Regions from separate parts of the Homo sapiens genome. Here regions 2 and 3 are each reported to be linked to region 1. The links are microRNA targets in miRTarBase. Many come from high-throughput screens and were not tested one by one. Region 1 holds a microRNA gene; each other region holds the end of a gene's coding sequence.

The links. The annotated mature microRNA hsa-miR-5587-5p reads AUGGUCACCUCCGGGACU and lies in region 1 at 4,950-4,967, opposite strand. An mRNA with a match to its seed (bases 2 to 7 or 8) in the 3' UTR can be bound and repressed. Matches are read on the target gene's strand: a 7mer-m8 pairs with bases 2 to 8, a 7mer-A1 pairs with bases 2 to 7 and ends in A, and an 8mer does both.
Region 2: miRTarBase lists RHOQ as a target of hsa-miR-5587-5p. Seed matches in the 3' UTR shown: 7mer-A1 at 3,395-3,401.
Region 3: miRTarBase lists UBL3 as a target of hsa-miR-5587-5p. Seed matches in the 3' UTR shown: 8mer at 4,319-4,326.

The regions. Positions count from the first base shown.
Region 1 is chr16:533,173-540,282 of GRCh38, reverse strand. It overlaps MIR5587 (microRNA 5587), which reads right to left and starts at 4,967; the gene lies at 4,915-4,967. CAPN15 (calpain 15) reads right to left here. Exons shown (of 14, transcript NM_005632.3): 2 at 6,285-6,337; 3 at 4,141-4,254.
Region 2 is chr2:46,578,677-46,585,386 of GRCh38, reverse strand. RHOQ (ras homolog family member Q) reads right to left here. Exons shown (of 5, transcript NM_012249.4): 5 at 699-4,459. The coding sequence ends at 4,304. It overlaps PIGF (phosphatidylinositol glycan anchor biosynthesis class F), which reads left to right. Exons shown (of 6, transcript NM_002643.4): 6 at 3,796-4,450. The coding sequence ends at 3,909. It overlaps RHOQ-AS1 (RHOQ antisense RNA 1), which reads left to right and starts at 5,149. Exons shown (of 2, transcript NR_104182.1): 1 at 5,149-5,352.
Region 3 is chr13:29,761,705-29,768,814 of GRCh38, reverse strand. UBL3 (ubiquitin like 3) reads left to right here. Exons shown (of 5, transcript NM_007106.4): 4 at 1,120-1,197; 5 at 1,508-4,444. The coding sequence ends at 1,560. Among named protein-coding and RNA genes, the nearest start is that of UBL3, 85 kb to the left of the region's middle.

The DNA.
Region 1 (7,110 bases):
AGCCGCTGCCGGGGGACCCGGGTAGGGCGGTCCCCCGGGGAAGCTGTGGTCCGACTCGGTCTCTGCGGCCAGGGAGGAGGCGGAGCTCCCCATGGCCCCCCGGCCGGCGGCCGTGCTGAGAGCCGGACCTGGTCACCTCTGGCCAGCAGCGGGCGAAGCGGAGCATGGAGGGAAGAGACAGGACGGCCGGCTGGGCAGAGTGACACACAACAAAAATAAACAGACAGAGAGAGAAAATAGAGAAGAAACAGCATGATTCACACACACAGCCCGGGAGGACTTCCCAGCATGCCCAGCCGCCTGGGGTAGGCTGAGGGGACATCTCAGTGCAGGGCCTGCGGCCCGACTTCGGCACCCACAGGGCTCCTCCCTCGGGGCCCTAGGACACCCCCCGGCCCCCAAAAGCCCGGCATCACGTCTGTGGTATTCAGAGACGTTTTATTCCTTGGTGAGAAAAGAGATCACACGCTTTTGCTTTATCACAGAAGGAAGGGTCAAGAGAACGTCTACCCAAAGGTAGGCAGGGGAGGTAGCAGAGGGCGTAGGGAGCTGCTGCAGGCCAGGCTGGATGAAGATCTGGGGGGCCGCTTCACACAGCTGCCCACATGCCACTCTGGAGACTTCCAGAAGGACGGGAGCCCGACCATGCCTTGTGCACCCACAGAGCCAGGCCCCGAGAAACAAGGACCCTGTGAGGCTATGGCTGAGGGCGGGGGCCGGTTCCTGGGGTCTCCCCTCCAGAGGGGCGAGAGCCACCCCTGCTGGGAGGCCTGGGAGAGGCACAGGCTGTCCAGGGCCTCTGACACGCGGCCCACCTGTGCTTCTGGGAAGGCCACCTTACCCCCTCTGGCTGAGGAGAAATCAAATACAGTTGAGAACGTTAATCCTGAGACGGGAGGACCCTGCCCGTGCAGGCAGCTGCTCTCCCCAGAGTCCGATACACTCCCCTCTCCCTGCCAAGATTGGGGCCAAGATGGCGTCCCGGCAGGCTGGCCGGCTGTGGGTTGACCAGCAGTTCCTGCTGTCACACACGTCACAGCCCTTCTTCCAGCTTCTGATTAAGTCTCTGGGACACACAGCCAGCGTCAGGGTAGAGCTTAGGAGGAAAGGGTCAAGTAAGTGTCAAAGCTGCCGTGCGTGGGGGATCACCTGAGCCCAAGAGTTTGAGACCAGCCTGGGCAACACAGTGAGACCCTGTCTTTATAGAAAACTAAACACTATCCGGGTGTGGTGGTGTGCACCTGTAGACCTAGCTACTCAGGAGGCTGACGTGGGAGGATGGCGTGAGCACCACAGCTGCATTCCAGCCTGGGAGACAGAGCCAAAAAAAAAAAAAGCACCAAAGAACATATCCTTTGGAGCTCAGGGAGGCCTGGGGGCAGCCCTAGGTGAGCGGGCTGGGGGGGGTGGGGGTGCAGTTCCAGCTTCTCCCCCGCGACGATGGGGAGCAGCAGAGGGCAGGGATGTGGGGGGCCTTTCCAGTCAGTGCTCTGACACCCGGGAGGGGCCTGCAGCTCTGAGGCCACAGGGGCTGAGCTCAGCGAGGCACGAGCACCTGGGATCGCACAGCAGACGCGCCAGCCCTTCCCTGGTTCCTCCCCACAGCCTTGGGGACAGAAGCTTCAAGGGCAGGGGCTGAGGGGGTGAGACAGAGAATTCTGGATCCCCTCTCCTTTGAGGCCTGGGGCAGAAGCCGCCGAGTCCCCCGTGTGGTGATAACGTTCGCCTGAACCACTTCACTCGGCACGAGGGTCCGTTTTCTCTGAAGGTGCTGGGGTCGTGGGAGGGTTGAAGCATTGCGGGCCCTGCACCCTGGAGACCCTGCCATCCTGTGGTGGCTCAGGCCTGCCCCGTAGGCAGAACGGTCACAGGACACACGGGGCCAGTGTGGGGTGCGGACCAGAGCCCAGCCCTAAGCCTGGTCCAGCCCGCAAGTCAACAATGGCTTTTACATTTTTAAATGGTTGGAAAAAAATCAAAAAAAAAAACAATACTCTGTGAGAGGTGGGAGTTCCATGAAATTCAGGCCTCGGGGTCAGCAGGGCACAGCCTGGCTCACTCGCCTGCAGGCGCTTCTCCACAGGGACCACCCTGTACTCACACCTGCCCTCGAAGGGGCACCTGGCGGCCACGCCGGAGAGCGCCGCGCAGTGTGGACGGGGCCACGGGAGTCGTGGCGGATCTCCTGGTATCCACGTAAGACAGGTGGAAAGGAACAGACAAAACAAGCCTTGGCGACGTGCTCTGTGTGATCCGAGGTATCTGAGACATCGCTGCGTCCGTGTGAAGCGAACGTAAAACATGACGGAGACATCCAGGACCCGTTCTCCAGGCCGGGTCTCTGGACGTGCCACACTACAGGCCCTGCAGCCACCAGTGCTGGCGGCCTCCACAAGGGGCAGCGCTCAAACATGCAGGACGCAGGCGAGGTCCACGGGGTCTCGAATGCCACACGGAAGCAAGGCCGGGAGCCCAGCACGCACGGAGCAGGCTCGCTAGCAGGGAGCCCACGCATCAACCCAGGGCCTCTCGCGTGGCTACGCCAGACGCCGGAACCACCCAAACGGCCCCTGCGTTCCCCAGCCCAGGCCACGCAGGAGTCCCTCACGGGAGACGGGTTGGGCATTTCCGACACTCCCCTTCTGTAGCCAAACCCTGAGCGGGTCAGGGCGGGGCAGGGCTTGGGTGGGAGCGGCGACTAGCGGAGGTGCCACGGGACAGAAGCTGCTTGCACTGGGCCCTGAGCTGGTTTGGCTCTGACAGGAGCCCTGCCCGTTCTGTGTGAGGACTGCACACCTGCCAGGGCCAACCTCAGCTCCTTCGCCACTCACCCACCCACGCACTCACCCACGTGGCACCTGGGGTCACGCGTGCCGCTAGAAACACAGGCTCCTACCAGGCCCCGCCTGCTCCTCACTGATGCCTTTAGGCCCAAGGCAGAAGTGGTGCCCAGCTGCACCCAGGGCAGGAAGCGAGCTGCTCACCAGCCTCCTGCTCCCCTGCGCTCACTCAGAAAACCTTTCTTGAGCTGGAGCCAGTCTCAGGCAACTGACCCTGTGGGCCCCATCTGGACAGGAGGGAGGCCTGTCCTAGGAGAGCAGGGACAGCACAGTCCCCTCCCGTGGGTGCTCGGAAGAGAAGAGAGGACCCTGCAGAGAAAAGCAAACGTCCCTGTCACAGAGGCTGGACAGCTGGCTCTGTTAAGCCCTCTCCGGGGTTTTTCCAGCACACGCCAGGGGATCTCCAGAGATGGTATCGCTGAACCGCCCCGATCCGCTGCCAGAGGAGTCAAGAGCCCCGTGAGGGGTGCCGGGGGCCCTGCCCTGGCTGGCGAGGCCCACTAAGGAGCAAGAGCTCCCGGGACACAGCTGCCAGCCACGTGCCAACCTGAGGGTCCCATCGCAAGGGTGACTGTGGGAAACTGGCACCGATGCTCTTCCCGAAATCCACCCTGCTGGCCTTCCCGAGTGCAGCTGTGGGTCCTGGGTCCCCCTGTGTTCCGTCCACTCATGATGGACAGATGCTAGTACAGGATGAGCAGCTACGGAAAAGGCTCCCAGGCCAGGTGCAGTGGCTCACGCCTGTAATCCCAGCACTGTGGGAGGCCGAGGTGGGTGGATCACGAGGTCAGGAGTTCAAGACTAGCCTGCGCAAGATGGAGAAACCCTGTTTCTACTAAAAACACACAAAAAATTAGCTGGGCGTGGTGGCGGGCGCCTGTAATCCCAGCTACTTGGGAGGCTGAGGCAGGAGAATGGCCTGAATCCGGGAGGCGGAGGTTGCAGTGAGCCGAGACCGCGCCACTGCACTCCAGCCGGGGCGACAGAGCGAGACTCCGTCTCAAAAAAAAAAAAAATAGGCTCCCAGCCCGCGTTCCCCTAGAGGGAGGGAACTGCATTTAGGAGGAAGACTCCGATGGGAGGGCCCCAGGAAAGAGGAGCAAGAAGTGGTGGGAAGGAGGGAGGGCAGCACCAGCAGCCACCCCCAGGGACAGCGCCCAGCCAGGGCTGACTGCATCTCGGCCGTGGGTGCTGGCTCCGGCCAGACCTCGGCAGGGGGGTTATCATGTCCAGGGCCACTGAGGACAGCAGGGACAGGGCCTGCTGCGGCCAGCCAGAGGCTCTTGGGAGGAACGCTCACCTGCCACTCCCAGGTCCGGCCCACCTCAGGGCCTGGGCACACGTGAATCACCCAGTGCAGTGGCCCCGAGGACGCAGGTCAGGTCAGTCCGTGGTTCCCATCCTGGCTCCCTGTCTGAATAACCGGGGGGGGGGGGGGGCGTGCAGGGGCACTGTCACCAAGGAGTGTGCCCAGGCCAGGCCGAGGGACAGCAGGGTGAGGCCCCCGCAGAGCATGCCGAACTCTGACCCCTGACCCCAGGGACATGCCCTGGGCCGCTGCTGCTCCTGTAGGGCCTGCCGCCGGCCAAGCATCTGTGCTGCTCCCGTGAGCTGCATGTGCCCCCCGGGCCTCTGCTGTGGGCCAGGCTGTTTCAGGTGCTCGCGAATGGGAACCAGCAGGAGCCGTGACCACAGGGCTGACTCTCAGGGCGGCGCCTCAAGAGTGGCCGTGACTCATGACTGCCACAGAGCCAGGCTGCAGCCACGCCCGCCTCTGGGCTCCCTGGAGGGGCAGGGTGCGGAGGGCCCCGGGCTGTGTGGATCCATGCCTGACCCCCACAAGTCCAACTGTGCAGCTCCCCGCCCTCCCTGGGAGCCGATGCCCTAGTTTTAAACGGGGCGGTGGCCTAGATCCAGCCTCAGAGAATTGCAGAGGTGAGGCCGCCACTGCCCTGTGGGGACAAGTGGTTAATGAGCAGGGCCAACTGGCCGGTCCCTGTCCTGTATGCCACACACACACCCCGTGAGGGCAGCAAGGAGCATCCAGCCAGGGGACGTGCACGAGAAGGGCCAGGATGATCACACTGCCCGGGGCTCAGCACAGGGCTGAGTCCCGGAGGTGACCATTGCCGCCCCGCTCCATCTGCGGCCACTGAGGTCTGCTGGGGGTCTCTGGTGCTGGCCTTGACAGCCCACCCGTGGCAGGACAGGGTCTCGAGGTGCCTCTCGGTAGGTGGTGGGCTCAGTGGGGGTGACCCGTGGGGACGGAACGCATGCTCCTGAGGCTCCAGTGGATGCAGGCAAAGGCACCTCCCGGGGTCAGCGTCCCTACCTGGGGAGCTGGGAGCCCACATGGGAGCAGGGCTGGCACAGCGACCCCCAGCCTTGCGCGGGCGGCACCCACAGCTGTGTCCACTCCGCATACACTCCTCACTGTCTCGCTAACTAATCATGTACACGGCTGTACCCCCGAGCCCTCCCCTGCCCCGCAGGTGACACAGGCGTGTCCCACTCACACAGCACCTGCTCCTGGGCCCTACATCTCCGTCAATCTTTCACAGAGCCATCTTGCCACCATGGGAACCACAGCGACCCCAACAAGGATGCCCCGGTGTCACCCCTGCCCGAGCTGGGGGTGTGGGGGGCAGCAGATGGAAAGCGGGGGCCCCTGTGTCCAGGCAGCTGGTGGCCTGGCCTTGCCCCACGGCAACCCCACTGCGCCCTAAAACTGCACCCACCAGACCAGAGGCTGCTGGTCCAGGCAGGAAACAAGAGCCAGCCACTACCGGGACGAAGCTCAGTCGGTGCCCACAACCTGAAGACAGGCAACTCTGCCTTTGTCCCCACTGACGCTAAGGCCCCTGTGGAGGAGATGACCCCAAGGACAGGAAGCTCCTGCATGAGTCGGGTGGGAGGGCTGAGGACAGGGCTTCCCATCGTCCCTACAAGAAACAAGGCCAGGGCCCCGCCCTGGGGGAGGACGTGGACTCCGACCGCCCGCCCCAAATGACAACTGGCAGGACAGCATTCTCCAGAAACAGGTGCAGGCCGCTCCCCAGGGACCAGGCACCCTCCTGGCTGAGGATAGCGGTGGGGGCCGTGCACAGGCTCCTCACCAGCCCCAGCCCCAGCGCTGCCGTGGGGATGGGGAGCTCCATCTGGGGGCCGGGGCCACAGCACAGGGGAGGTCCCCAAAGGGACAAACACCCCTGTCGGGACCCCGGGCCGCCCTCACCGTCGCCTCCCACGACAGGACCACGGCCCAAACGGCTGGGAGAACGAGGCTCTTCAGGGCAGGCAGGGCTGCCGGCCTCCAGGGGTTCTGTGAATCAAGGGCTCCGAGAGGCCCCCCAGCCGTGGGCACTCCAACCCTGCTGCTCCACAAACAGTTCTGCAGCGCAAGCAAACCCATAAACGAGCCGCAGGGCTTGGGAACAAACTCACCTGAAGCTGCAGCAAGCTCCCAGGCCCTCTCTGTGCCGCGTCTGGGCTGCTGCCTAGAAAGGGAGGCATTTAATCAGGCACCTCAGCTTCCACCAGGAGGACTCTGACCCTGGAACACAGAGCCCCGCCTCCAGCCCTCTCTGCAGGAGCCAGAGTCCCGGGAAATCAGCCCCGGGAGACCCTTCGCCTTAGAAGCTGTCCGAGCTTCTGTCCTTGGGTGTCTGTCCGAGCGCCAAAGGCAGCCCGGGGAGCAGCAGGGGCTCAGCAGGCTCCTCACTACCCTGGTTTAAGGCCCTTGACCTGTCCAGTGCGGTCAACCTCCGGCCAGCCAGGACCGCAGACAGGGCCATTCAAGATCCTGTCCGGACCTCCCACGGCCCGACCCTGCTACAAGGAGCAGGCCGTGGGCAAGAGTCCATGAGCGGGGCTGCAGAGCAGCACCAGCCAGGGAGGGCGGCCGAGCTTCCCAGGCACTGCCAGGGAAAGGTGCCCAGCTTGGGCAGGCACAGGCACACAGCCAGGTGGCCACCTAGACTCCCCCGGACCCCAGCCCGAGTGCCACCCGGCCACTACAGCTGTCAGCAGGGCGGCCACTGCTTCGAGCCAGGCGGCTTTGCTTCTCTAAGGTCATGCTCTCCATGGCGGACCCACTGCGGTGGGCAGGATGCTCACGCTTCCCGCCCTGTCCTTCCTGGGCCCTGTGTAGGGCCCACCATGGACTCCTCACTCAGCCATCACCCTCTTTTTTGTTGGTTTTAAATTTTTTATTTTATTTTTTGAGATAGAGCCTCGCTCTGTCACCCAGGCTGGGGTGCAGTGGTGCAAT
Region 2 (6,710 bases), not on the chromosome of region 1:
CACTTGAGTTGTAATATATTTGATTATACACCATAGGTTGTTTCTTCTATTTACTGGCTAAAAAAATGTAAATTTATAAAAAACTCTCACTATCTTGCCCAGGCTGGCCTCCAGTGCTTGGGCCCTTGTCATTTTGGTGGCAAACACTTGTGAATGACTTCCTTTACATGAATGTCTTTGTTCTAAGTTTCCTATTTTCTTTAAACAAAATAATTATATAAAGCCATCTCAGATTACCATAATTTGGAGAAATCTTTATAGCAGTGCAGCTGAATTATGTATTTAATAGATATCACTTTTTTAAAAAATCCTATTTGTGGCATGAAGAACGTTGAATAGAAACATGTCTGTATGTGAGATAAGGAAATAGTTTTAAAGGAAAACCTTAGGATCTAATTATGAAAATACCTGATTAAGCTAGGATTTACAAATGAATTCTGTTGCCATAGTGTAGTTTAAAAATTTTTAGAATAATTATAAGAAAATCAGTAGGAAACTTGCTTGAGGAATAGTTCTTAGTGGGCAGCCTCCCTCCTTTTGCTGTTCCCTATTTTGATAATCTATTTTGATCTTCAAAAATCATGAAAACGGCCCTTAAAGAAATTCTCTTTTAAAAAAATGACAGGGTTACGATTAAGAAATGCTTATTTCAGGAAAGCCAAGGAGGTACTCTTGTAAGTACAAAGCCTGACCCATCATTAACAGTCTTCAAAGCCAGTCCACATTTTAATTTGCTGATGGCATGCACTTCTTGATTTACATAACATGAATAACCAAGTGTTCCAAGCCGTAACCCTTCATTAGACAAAATTTTTTAACATTTCATTTTTGGCATTCTGTTGGAGGTGAGGTGTGGCAGCTGTTTAAAAGAATGTGCGTGGTGGTATGTATGTGTTTGAGAACAAAGAGCCATACTGAAATTACAAAATGATTAAAATACAATTTAGTAACCCAAATTGGAATCTAGCTGGGATTCATGAGGGATTACTATTCTCCCTATACTTTAACAGTGAGCTTTTTTTAACAGAGTATAGGGACTCATACTTTGCCAATGATTAGTAGACTCTCAGCATAAATAGAGGAAAGAGTATTATCCTAAATGTTTACATAGGGTAATAAATAAAAACTACTAAGGTAAAAAGTTCAGTGCTTTACGTAGATAGTAAACTATGCATAGTATTTTATTTGTAACCCCATGTGTTAAGAAGGGACACTGTTAAAGTAACAATCATTTAAAAGTAACAACCAACAAACTGGTATTTAATTTGGTATTTTAAATAGTTAAAAATCAAATGGAAACAGTGTCTAAAGTCACTAAGATAATTCATAACAAAACCCATTAATCCAAGCTCCACTTATTGTAAATAGAATTCACCATGAGCTAACCTAAAATGTACCTGTGGAGATAAAACAAGAGTGTAAGTTAGCAAAGTATTAAATAAAATTTCAGGGAGCCCCTAAATTTATTTTTAAGAACTTTAGAACTAATTCTCTATATGCAAACACTGATTAACTCAAATATCTTGTAAGTTCATTCATACATGGCCTTATTTGAGGCAGTGTATTTGTATTCACTAGCAAAATTCATGTCAGTAAAATATTTTTGAAGCAGTTTATTTCCCAGATATTTCACTAGTTTGAAATAGTCATTTCAGTGATTAGTCTGAATTTCTATTGAAGCCTAAGCTTTGAATGAAGACATGCTTCTGAAAATAAGGCAGTTTTTCTCTAGTCTGCTTATCAATAGAAAACAAATCTTTGGTTTTTAGTTAAAGTGACAGGAAGGATTTTTGCAAAAAGAAAAACTAAAGAACCAAAGCAATTAAAAAGCTCTTGATAAGCAATGGGGAACTCCAAACCCATCAAGGTCAGTAGAGTACCTAAGGCACCTCAGCTTCAGATGTGACAGTCATCTTTGCTTAGAGTTCTGATAATCTATATACATGATTTTTACCATCTTGAGAATGTGAAGCTGAAAAGGTAACATCCAACAATGATTACTGTGAATAAGAAAATTACTGTGATAAATGGGAGAGACGTTGGAGATCTCTGTTCTACCTCCCATATTTATAATGAGGAAACCAAATCCCAGTCAAGAAACAGGTGACACCAGTTTGTGTAGACAAATTCCTAATCTGTTTCTGTTAGGGCAGGGCAAATTCTAGACTTCTAACTTTGAATTAGTAAACCAAGTGTGAAGGGTTTCAGAGATATGAATTGGAGCCCCCTCCCCCCACCAAAAAAAATCCTCATAAATCCCCAAAGGCAAGTTGGAAATGTGTAATAGTTTACTGTTGTAATTCGTTTATACCATGTGTTGGACAACTCAGCTAATATGTTAATTGATTTATACAATTCCTTTCAATTTTATCTAAAAATAAGCAGACCAAAATTAAATAAGAAAGTTACATAAGATTCCATTTGAGCATACATAAGGCCATGATACTTTAATGTGAACCACCATTTCTTGGAAGAAAGAAGACATCCAAATGTCCGATTCAGAGAGAAAGTTCCTGGCCAGTCATCCAGTAGACTCTCTCCACTCTTCAATGGGAAGGTGATGCTTATATTTTTAAAAATCTCTACAAAGCTCACATACAACAAGACAGTACATCCTAGATTTGTGACTGATATGAGCATTTAAGGCTGTCATTTTCAAGTATAAAAGTTTAGTGTTCCATTACCCAATCTGTGCAGTAGACATAGCTATAAGCTCAAGTCATGTGAATTAACAGAAGCCCACCAAAGACATTTAAAAAATTATAATTTGGGCAACAGCAAGTTTAAATGTAGGAAAGGCTAGAAAAAATGTGATGAGATTGTTTCTCTAAAATGCATTAGGTTGTTCACAATGAAGCTTTGTCTAACACCATTATCTGATGCATCCATTATCTGATGCATGGCATATGCAATAAGGCAGATCCACAGCAGACCAAACAAGGAAGCTGAATTAGGTAATAGAACTAGTAATTAAGATGGTTCACCTCTAACACAGTTCTGTGGCCTGTTCCCCCCAGAGAAAGATTAGAAATGGCTCCAGTGTACCAAATAAGCTTCACAGAAGAACATGAAAATTTTCCTCCAACTTTTTTTTCTTTTTTTTTTCAAGCAGAGCCTTTCACTTAGGGACCAACTGCTTGTAGATGAAATAAATCAACATTAATTACTTCTAGCCTGATGTAATATGGCTGGAGAAAAGGGGTCTCTGGAAGCCGGTATTTTGTTTAACTTACATTCTAGGTGTGTATATAAGTTGTCGCTCTATAACTTCTGCTGTGGTTCCAACATCTATATCTGAAAGGTGGAAGCAGCTGCTCTGTTACAATTTTCATGTAACACGCTTGGATTCTAGGTCTTTCCTCTTTAACACAACTTAAAGAAAGTTTCTTGTGGTTTGGTCAGCATACACACTTCTCATTTCATTTGATGTACACAGCCAAAGTGGGAATTAAAAAAAAAAAATTACCAACTAGTTCAGAGAGCTAAATTGAGTCTATCATTATGGCAAAGTCTGACCCAAAATTTTAATTTGTAATTTTAGCATGTGTCTCATGCACTTTGGGGAGCGTCAAACTAAATCTACAATTGCCAGAAGCCTTGTTACAGTTTAATGCACATTAACTAAAATGTGTACATTTTTAGTGTTCATGATAAATGCAGTTATGACCTTATTACACTTTTGGCATTCTTTAAGAAAGCACATTAAGCTTTAATATAGAAATATTTAGGTTACACTTGTGCTCAAGTAATAATAAAACATTTGTTCTTTTTTGATCTCATACATTCTCTCCTCAGGTATGGCCCATCTCCTGTACGCTTGGAGCGACCTTTGGCTACGTGGCTGGCCTTGTTATTTCACCACTCTGGATATACTGGAATAGAAAGCAACTTACATACAAGAACAATTAACTGGAGCAAAGGGAGATATTTCTTTGTGCAGATTCTGTAAGGGCTGGGCAGAAATGTGTATGGTCAAAGCCAAGCAGTTCCATTTACAGCTCTGTTTTTTACGTAGTTACAACATGATGTGATTGTAGCTTTTTAAACTATGAAACCCCTGAGAGATTGTACCTTCTAGTTGAAATAAAGTATTTATAATAGATTGTGGCTTCAGATGCTGCTTACTGCTTCTTAAACCTTTAAGGAACATTCTTAATACACTTTATAGAATTCTGAGGACAGGTTTTGTTTTCTTTCAAGTTTTGAACTGCTTCATTACCTATAAAAGGTCTGGGTATAGCTGTAGCATTTCATTTGCTTTCTGAGAGAAATGGACAGTTTCCTTGGCCACTGAAGATGTTTCTCACGTAATTAAACAACAGTTTATACATCTTGATCCTATTCTTTTTTTTACAGTGTGTTTCTTTGGAGTTAAAATGGCTATGATAGCCTCATCAAAAACAGTCTTCAATCCCTTCTGGGTTAAAGCTGAACATTCCACATAGCAGCATGCTCCTATCTGGGAGGGAGAAAAAAAATCACAAATATATAAGATCATGTTTATACAATTGGCATGACATAAACACATCATTATAAAGAAAATTATAAAATACAGCTATGCAAAAAGAATACATTCATCATCCATGTTCATAACCCCAGAGGGGATTTTAAAATACTAGTATATGTCCTTCCAGACTTTCTATGAAAAATTATTTCACTCACCACATATTTACTGGGTATCTACTATATGTCAAGCACTGTTTAGGTCCTGGGGATATGTCAGTGAACTGAACGAAAGAGCAGAGTCCCTGCTGTGTGGCGTCCACATGTGCTGACATCTGCTGGGTAAGAGGCACAGGGGAGGGAATACAGAGCAGATGGTTGCAAATGCTGTGGGGAAAAAGCAGAGTGAGGGAGGCGGGGAGTGCTGAGGACAATGGTAGTGGGGGTCCGGGGAGGCTTCTCAATGGGGAAGTTTGAGCAGTGAGGGATACCTAGGGGAAGAGCTCCAGGCAGATAGATCCTGATGCAGGAGCATGCCTGGAGCAGTCAAGGAACAAGATCACACTGAGGATGTGGTATTTGAGCAGAGACCTGAAAAGAGTGAAAGAATGAATCATGTCCATAGGGAAGAACATTCCAGGCAGAGGGAACAACAAAAGTACAAAGGTTCTCAGGTAGAACTTTGAGGGAACAACAAAGGAGACCAGGAGGCCTGGGGAACAATGAGTAAGGCAGAGAGGGAACAGAGGCTTGTAGGCCACTGTGCGGACTTTGGCGTTTAGTCTGAGCTGGGGACCCACTGGAGGATTCTGAGCAGAGCAGTGACATGATTGCGCTTACATTTTTAAGACTTACTCTGGCTGCTGTGTTGAGAACAGATGACCATGGGGCATAGACAGAAGCAGAAAGGTGAGTTGGAAGCTATTCCAGTAAAGCAGGCCAGAGATGGAGGAGGTCTGAACCAGGTGATAGAGGGAAGAGTTAGAAAAAAGTGTCTGGATTCTGGATATGTTCTGAAGGTATGTTGTGCCGAAGGCTAGATGTGTGGTATGGGAGAAAGAGCAAGGTCAAGTACGACTTCAGGGCTTTTTTTTTTTTTTGAGACAGTTTCACTCTTGTTGCCCAGGCTGGAGTACTATGGTTCGATCTTGGCTCATCACAACCTCTGCCTTCTGGGTTCAAGCGGTTCTGCCTCAGATTCCTGACTAGCTGGGATTACAGGCATGTGCCACCACACCCAGCTAATTTTGTATTAGTAGAGATGGGGTTTCTCCATGTTGGTCAGGGTGGTCTCCAACTCCCAACCTCAGGTAATTCTGCCCGCCTCGGGCTCCCAAAGTGCTGGGATTACAGGTGTGAGCCACTGCACCCAGCTGAGGGCTTCTGACCTGAGTAACTGGGAGGACAGGCTTGGAGGGTAAAAGAAGAATCATATCTTAGACATGTTAATTTTGAGATACTCAGCCATGTAGATGGACTTGTTGAGTAAACAGCTGGATAACCAAATTGAGAATTTAGGAAAGAGGTCCAGGCTGGAGATGGAAATCCAGGAATCTTTGGTTGTAGACTGTGCAAGCTACAAGACTGACAGAAGCTCATTTAGGCCTAGGGAGTGTAGCTATAGAAGAAGACATCCACAAAGCTGAGTGCTCATCACTGGGGCCCTCCAACCAGGGACCAAGGAGGTAAAGAGATGGAGCAGAGTCCAATGAGAGGGGAGAAAAACCAAGAGAGTCCAACTGAAGAAAGTTTCAGGAAGGACGCAACTGTGCCAAATGCTGATGAGTCTAGAAATGAGATCATACTGTTTTGCAACTACTTTTTTCCCTTTAGCTACATAATAAATATGAAATCTTAACAGATAGTATGAAGTTTTAATAGATGCAGGGAATTTTTGCCATTATAAACAATTCAGCATCTTTGTAGCTCTAAGTACGTCCCTAATAATTTACTTTTATTATTAAATATTATAAATGGACAAATTATAATTTTATATAAGGTACAAAGCAATATTTTCTCTCTATATATACATATACACACACACACACGAGTGAAATGATTAAATCAACATAATTAACATCTATCACCTTAAATACTTATCATTTTGTGTGGTGAGAACATTTAAAATTTACTCTTTTAGCAATTTGGAAATACGCAGTCCACCATTATTTATTTATTCATTTATTTTGAGACAGGGTCTCACTCTGTCATCCAGGCTGGAGTGCAATGGCACTATCTCGGCTCACTGCAACCTCCACCTCCTGGGC
Region 3 (7,110 bases), not on the chromosome of region 1:
ACTTACATTTTGATTTAAGTCAGGCCTAGGAAGTTATTCTAAAAGCCTCCCTTTTTTCATTATGTATTTATGGGCCATCGTGCTTCATTTGAACATCAGAGGTTAAAAGTGTAGACCAAATAATGGCTGGCCAACTTTAAATGAGATTGGAACTCACCTTGAATATATGAAATAGTACTAGTGTTGAAGATAATTAGGATTCTTTTTAAAATCTGCATGTTAACCATCATCCTATAGAGCAGGTTTTAAAAAGCAGGTAGCTGGAGTGGAGGATCATTATTGCTAAGTGATGATCTTAGGCCTTACTTCAGTTTGTAGTTTTTGAAGAGAGGGTAGTTTGAGGTGTCAGAACTAAAACATAACAACTATAGAAACAGTTCTAGAAGCTAAATATACCAGCTGCTTCTAATTTTATACACAGAGTAACAAAGGGATTTACCATGAAACTCAGTATTTGTATTTGCCTTAGTGGACATGGGTGTGTGTTCTATGTCTGAAATATTTCATGATAAAATTTATTAAATTTATGAGTGAAAAAATGTTATAAAGACTTGATTAGGAAACAGTGATTATTGATAATGCCAAGAAAGTGATTATTTTAACCTAATCTTTTTAAGAAAGTTCTTTTCTAATGGACGAATACAGGGTGAGAATAAATGTTTAAAATCAAGTTTATTTCTTGCATTTCTACATCATAGTAGCCTGTTCAGTGCAGTAATTTTATTAGGCAATAGACAAGTAATTAGATTTAGAAATGAATATCTCTTAATCTAAACTTTTACCTAATATAGAAAAGAGTATTCTTTTAAAAAAAATTTAATCCTTTCTCCTCTAAAGGTGGCCTCTGATATTAGCCAATTACATATTTTTTCTTATATCATCTCTTAATATGGATAAATGTGTCAAGCAAATGGCTATATAACTGCAAAAAATAATTTCTAAATTTTAAATGTTATTTCTGATAATATTAACCTAATTTTGTGAAGGTACTCTGAGTTAAGTTGAATCTGTTAAAGAAGTCATAAAAAAGCAATCAATTTTTAAAATGGTTTTAAATCTGGATAGTGATTTTAATAGGTCGATATATGTGTAACTAATCATCTTTTGCTTTTCACATAGCATTAAAACTTCCTTTTGGCAAAACAACAGTGATGCATTTGGTGGCCAGAGAGACATTACCAGAGCCAAACTCTCAAGGTAAGCCATGCACTGGAAAAGTATCTCAGTTGAGGCACAAAGACAGGCATTCAAAAATGCTAGGTTTTTCTTGGATATGCTGAGGGAAGGGAAGTTTGCATAGTTTATGAATAGAGATTGTCAAGCAAATAACCAGACATTTTTGAAACATGCTAAAATTAAAAGAACATTTATTACAGCTTCTTAATTTTGAAAAATGCAAACATTTTTAAAAACTCAAAACTACTACTTCCTACACTTGATTGCCTAGCCCATTTTCCCCTCCAGTTCTAGAATTTTTATAAACGAGGCTCTTCTTCGTTTTCCCTAGGTCAGAGGAATCGTGAGAAGACTGGAGAGAGTAATTGTTGTGTAATCCTGTAAACACTGTCTGCCTAGTGTGATGTGATATAGTCTTTGTCTTTCATGCTGCTGGGACAGAAAAGACCCGACATTGCTTCAGAAACCGTTCAGAACAGTCTGCCTGTAAACACATGGAACTGAATTACCACATGAACACTGTCATCTTTTCTCATGAAAGTAAAAAGAACCAAGAACATTTTTCACTCTGATTTTTTATTTCTTGTATTTTTTGTTGAGCTGTTTTAACACATATTGGTTTTTGAATGCAGTCAATCTCCAGGGGAAAAGTTAACAAGTTATCTTTCGTAGCAGAAACCATTTTGCTGCCACAAAATTTTCATCATCAGAACTAATAAATCAAGTGTTCCAAATACAATTTGCATTAAAAAGATTGGCATTATTTTCCTCATCAGCAGAATTTATAACAGTGTGTGGTATCTAGAAATACTTATATATACAATTCCACACTGGAAGACACTCAGCAATTAATGAAGTTAATTACTGGGCCAACTTGAGAGGAAAAAATGGAAAAGAAACTAAAATGTTGGGTGAATTCTACCAAAGTCAGCCGTGGTGGCTGCACTGGCACAGAATACTAAACTGAGTGTGACTATTTTCACTGCAACAAATGAAAAAACAAAATGTGCCTGTTTAAAGCACTCAGTAGAGGGCTGATGAAACTAATTTTTTTTCCTTTAAGACATGCACTCTTGAGTCCTACAGTAACTGAGTGTTTGTTTAGACAGCACAAGAAGGGGTGAGAGTGCGTCTCCTAGCCTTAATGTGGGAGGGTAGTTTCAGTCACTCATCGGCTTTCATTATTGTGCAGAAATATTAGAAAACCTCATTGATCAATTTTATGTATTTGAATATCAGCAAATTGAAATTTTCCATAATTATCATTAATTTGTAACCACATCCAGTGTCATGCTTACTCCTTAGAGTTCAGATGAATTCTTAAAATTAAAAAAAAACTCCATAGTACTAATTTTGTTTCTTTATATAGTTTGCGTTTGATATTAGTGCTTGCAATTGTATTAAAGTCAAAAGCTGATTTTTATGGCATACACAAGAATGCCACTTTTTCTTTTATTTCATACCAATAATTTAAAGATTGATATGCTAAAAACAATTTGCACAGCACTAAAGCATGAGCTACTTTCATCTAAACCTGTAAAAATATGAAAGATTTTTATATTTTTTCACTGGGAAGAAATTCTTCCTGGATGAAATTACAAATATGTGTAGAATATATTTAATAAAAGACTTATAAAATACCTAACTACAGGACTTAAAATATAGATTGGCGCGTAGTATACAGAACAATATTCCATATAAATAAGTTTAGCCTTTATAAAAATGAAGTTGCAGGCTGACATTACATTCTGTACTAAGTGTCAACAGCCCTTACAAACATTAAATGTAAATGGTTTCAAATGGTCAGCGTTGTTTAAATGTAATCATGTTATTTTATTCATTGTTAATGCTTTGATGAAAAGGCTTTATATGCAGTAGATCTACGAAAATATTGTTCATACTGATCAGAATTAAATTTGTATAGAGCAGAGTTTTAAAATGAATGTAAATAGCACTAAACGTTTTCTTTCTGCAACCTGTACTTACAGATTCTTCCTGTAAACTAAATAAAAAAAAAATGATAGTGCATTTTGGTGGTAATTTTAAAGGTCTTGATTAGGTCAATAATTGTTTAAGCACCGTCTCATTCATGTTTTCTACTTTCATTTCTTAAGCTTTTAAAATTCATTTAATTAATATTCTGTTGTTGTTTTGGGGAGTATTCCCAATGTATCTTTGATATTTAACCTGGTTAATTTGTGGACAGTCACAACAATGGATAGAATTATGTAGTCTCCGTTATCACTAAAATGTTATCTTCAAGAGATGTTAAATATTTATATGCTTTGTTGACTAGCTGAAATGTGAATTCTGTTAGTGTTGACTAAAGAATCTGGTAGTTGCTTAATTGGGCAATTAAACAATTTATGGCTCTATTTTGTAAAACAAACTACTGGTAATTATTTTTAATACCTATTTTCATTCTGATTACTCTTTTTTTAAGTTAAAGACTATCAGTTAATTAAGATTGAGTTTTTATGATGGTTAAAAATAATTCTCTATTGGTTTTTCAATATATTTTTCTGTGTGTTCTCAGATTATATATTTCCCTCAATTTAGAGTTTGCTAAGTGAAATAAACTGGTTCACTAGTAGAGAAAGAATTACGTCGCTTAATACCTAATATCATAGTTGTACAATATGAAAAAAAAGAATAAAAAGTAGCAGTAAAATTATATACTGAAAACACCAAAAATTTAGATGCCTTAATAGTATATACGTGAAATACTCAGCTGTCCCTTTAAAAATAATTCCTTGGACTGCCTGGTGGTTAAAATACGATTCCTCATATCCAAGGCTACTTTTGAAGATCCCTCTGCCAAAAATATAGCTCACTTATCTAAAGGTGAGAGCTGCATAGATCCAGTAATGTACATAAAGCCTGAATGATGAGCCTATGTCCCTGCCTAACGCTGGTGTCTCACTCATCTCTTTTACCTAAATTGTCCTGAACTTTGTTAAGTGTTCTGGACAAGGCCAAGCTTTTCTTTATTAAAACCTCAGCATGTCTCCCTGATCTGAACTATTTGCTTTCTCTTCAAGATAAGTTGTATTTTACCATGGAAAAATACAGTATCTAACATTACCATTCACGTTAAATGAAGTTTCCTCATAACATTTATCTTTAGTTTTATGAAGTCATCGTGACCAATGTTACAGTAATTTCTGTTAGCTGATTGTGGTAAACAATGTTTAATGTGAAAAGAAATTAAAACTTTCTTCATCTGTTGTAGAATATTTCTCTTCTTTAAAATGGCTTCTATTCATAATTCTGGTGTATTTGCCTATTCTTTATTTCACTACTGTTTATGTCTTTTTTTCTTTCTTCAGTTAATGATACTCTTCAGTAAAAATCAACATTGAGCCAGCCTTTGCTATAGTTTAGCAAAATCAAAGGGAAGTATCAGCCAAAATTTAATATGCCTTCATACCGTTTTTATTTGTAACTTTTTCGAGCATTCCAGTTTGTTTTCCATTTTTGTGTTATAATATGGTCACTTGTTAGCCAAATGGAGTGATTGGGGTGGAGTGATTGGGGTGGGGGAGAAGGCACATGACCTATAATTACAAACACAGCTATAATTGAAACACAGCTGCAGGCTGTGCTGGAGTCTAGGCACAGTTTTTGTGGCCAGGGTAGGGTGGGGTTCTTGGGTGTGAGCAGTGGTAGTTGGGTGTGACTCCTGGCTTACCCTGACCCCCTGCCAGTTGGTGTGTTTCCTTCAGAAGGCAGTGGCTTCTATGAGGCTTTTACACAGGAGGTGGTTGACTTCTGAAAGAGATCATGGATAGAACTAAATGAGAAACACTTAGTTCTTAAATATCAGAGTTTAAAGCAGTACTGAAATGTGAAAACCAATTTCACTTACTACATTATTTTATAGTCTTCGACAGTGATGTCAGATGTTTGTCTTTTAATATTTTTCATATTCCTCTTTTTCAAAATGACAGCTTTCAAGAAATATGGAGTAGGCATAGTAAATTCCCATTTGGGGAAAGGAAATGCCCATCTCTTCCACGTGAGTCAACCAATAAAAAAGGAGTTGGGTAAACACATTTTCTAAAATGGCTCTGGAAGTGGTTTGTTGTTAGAAGTCTTAGAAGAGTCTGGCTGGTTTTAGAATGTAGTAATTACACATTCAAACATTATTTGGTATCTTTTATTTTCTACACATGTTCTTGAAGCTTATTTGATGTAAGGGAAGTCTTACAATGAAGTGGGAGAAACTTTGCTATAGTTAAATAATACAAGGAGGCAGCAGAACCTGGAGGGGAACCGGGACAAGCCGCAGCAGAGTGGGACCCTCAGAATTCTTGTAGGAACATACAGGAAGACATCTGGGAGTTGGCCAGTTCTCAGTTGTCTGCCAGACGAGATAGTTTTTCTTCTTCCCTGCATGCTGGAACCTGTTTCCCCTTATGTCCTTCCTTACCACATGGTTTTCCGTGGGCATCACTCACCTGGGTTCCATTAGGGTGCCACTCCCCCAGTGTTTCTCAGGAGCATTTTTTTTTAAGTCTGATAATTTTAACACATCTACATTTTGACTGATGCTGTTCGTCAGTCCTCAGAGTTCAGAAAACCACAAGAATAGCTGGGCTTTGGAGTCAAGCCTGACTTTGTTCTGGGTGATTTTGAAGAAGTTACTTAATATCTGAGCTTCAGTTTTTTCATTTATAAAAATTAACACATAGTTTAGAGGGTTGTAAGGTTTATTTTAAAATAAATATTTAGAGCACTGATTTGTCTGAGAACTCATGCAAGCTAGCAAACCTGTCAGAAGGCCTTATGTTGGAAATAAAGTGCTGGGCATCAACGTATACTCTAAACTTTATGGAAGTAGCTTATGAAAAGGCCAGAGAAAATGTGGATGATGCTGTGTTCATTTAAAAGGAAGATGAGTGGGGACATCTCAAAAATAAGCTCTGGAATAGAAGGAAAATAGGGGACCCAGTAATGACACAGCTTCAGATGTGTATATGCGAGGTACCAGGTCATACATAGAGCTTAGACATGTTAACATAAGGACATAAACATAACTGTCAAAATCTGAGATGCTATTTGTTACTAGGGTACAAAAATACACTGTTCAAAAGAAATGGGTCTAATAAAGGTGGGAAACTATATCAAGAATACACAAAGGGAACTTAGACCTGAGAGGGAAAGTAAATGAGGAGTATGTGAATAATGAAAAAAGACAAAAATATGATTGTCAGGTTATATTGTACTTTTTCTTCATCAGATTAAGGCTATGGATTTCTGTTCTGAATCTGCAACAGGAAAACACAGAGACAAGACATGGTAGTGATGCAGTAGTTGGGCTATAAAAGACCTTGCTGGGTGTCTTGTTTGCTAAGAGTCCGATTAACTCTTGACTTGCTGATAATGCCATCCCATTAGGTTACCAGAAGTAACAAAACTGCTGCTCTGGGATTCATTTTGGCCCCGTGGGAAAGAATGATTCTAGAGGAAATGTTAGGAGCCTGCAGCGAACATAGGTGTGCACTCAAATGTTAGTAATGATGAGACTAAGGCAGACACTGGTGGTTGCTTCTCCAGCATCGCTGCTGCTTCCTTGCCAGGATATTGAGGAGTAACTGCTTTCCCCCACCTTGTGGCTTAGGGAAGTAGGACGTTATCCCAGCTCTGTCACCTTTGGTGTAATTGCTTTAGAAGTGGCCATGGGACTCCATCCTGGCAAAGGAGACATGAGGAAACTCTGCTGAGGGTGTTTCTGGGGAAAGTTCCTTCACTCCCAAGGAGACCTTGCAAGAGACTCTTTTTGCCTGTTTACATTATTTTGCCTGAACTTGATGACTGAAACTGCTATAGCCACATTTGGACCCAGAAGGGAGCTAACCTGAGGGCAAAGCCAGCACATTGAAGCTGTAGAGGAGAAAGGAAAAAACCTGCCCTTGCAGAGCTGCTGATTCT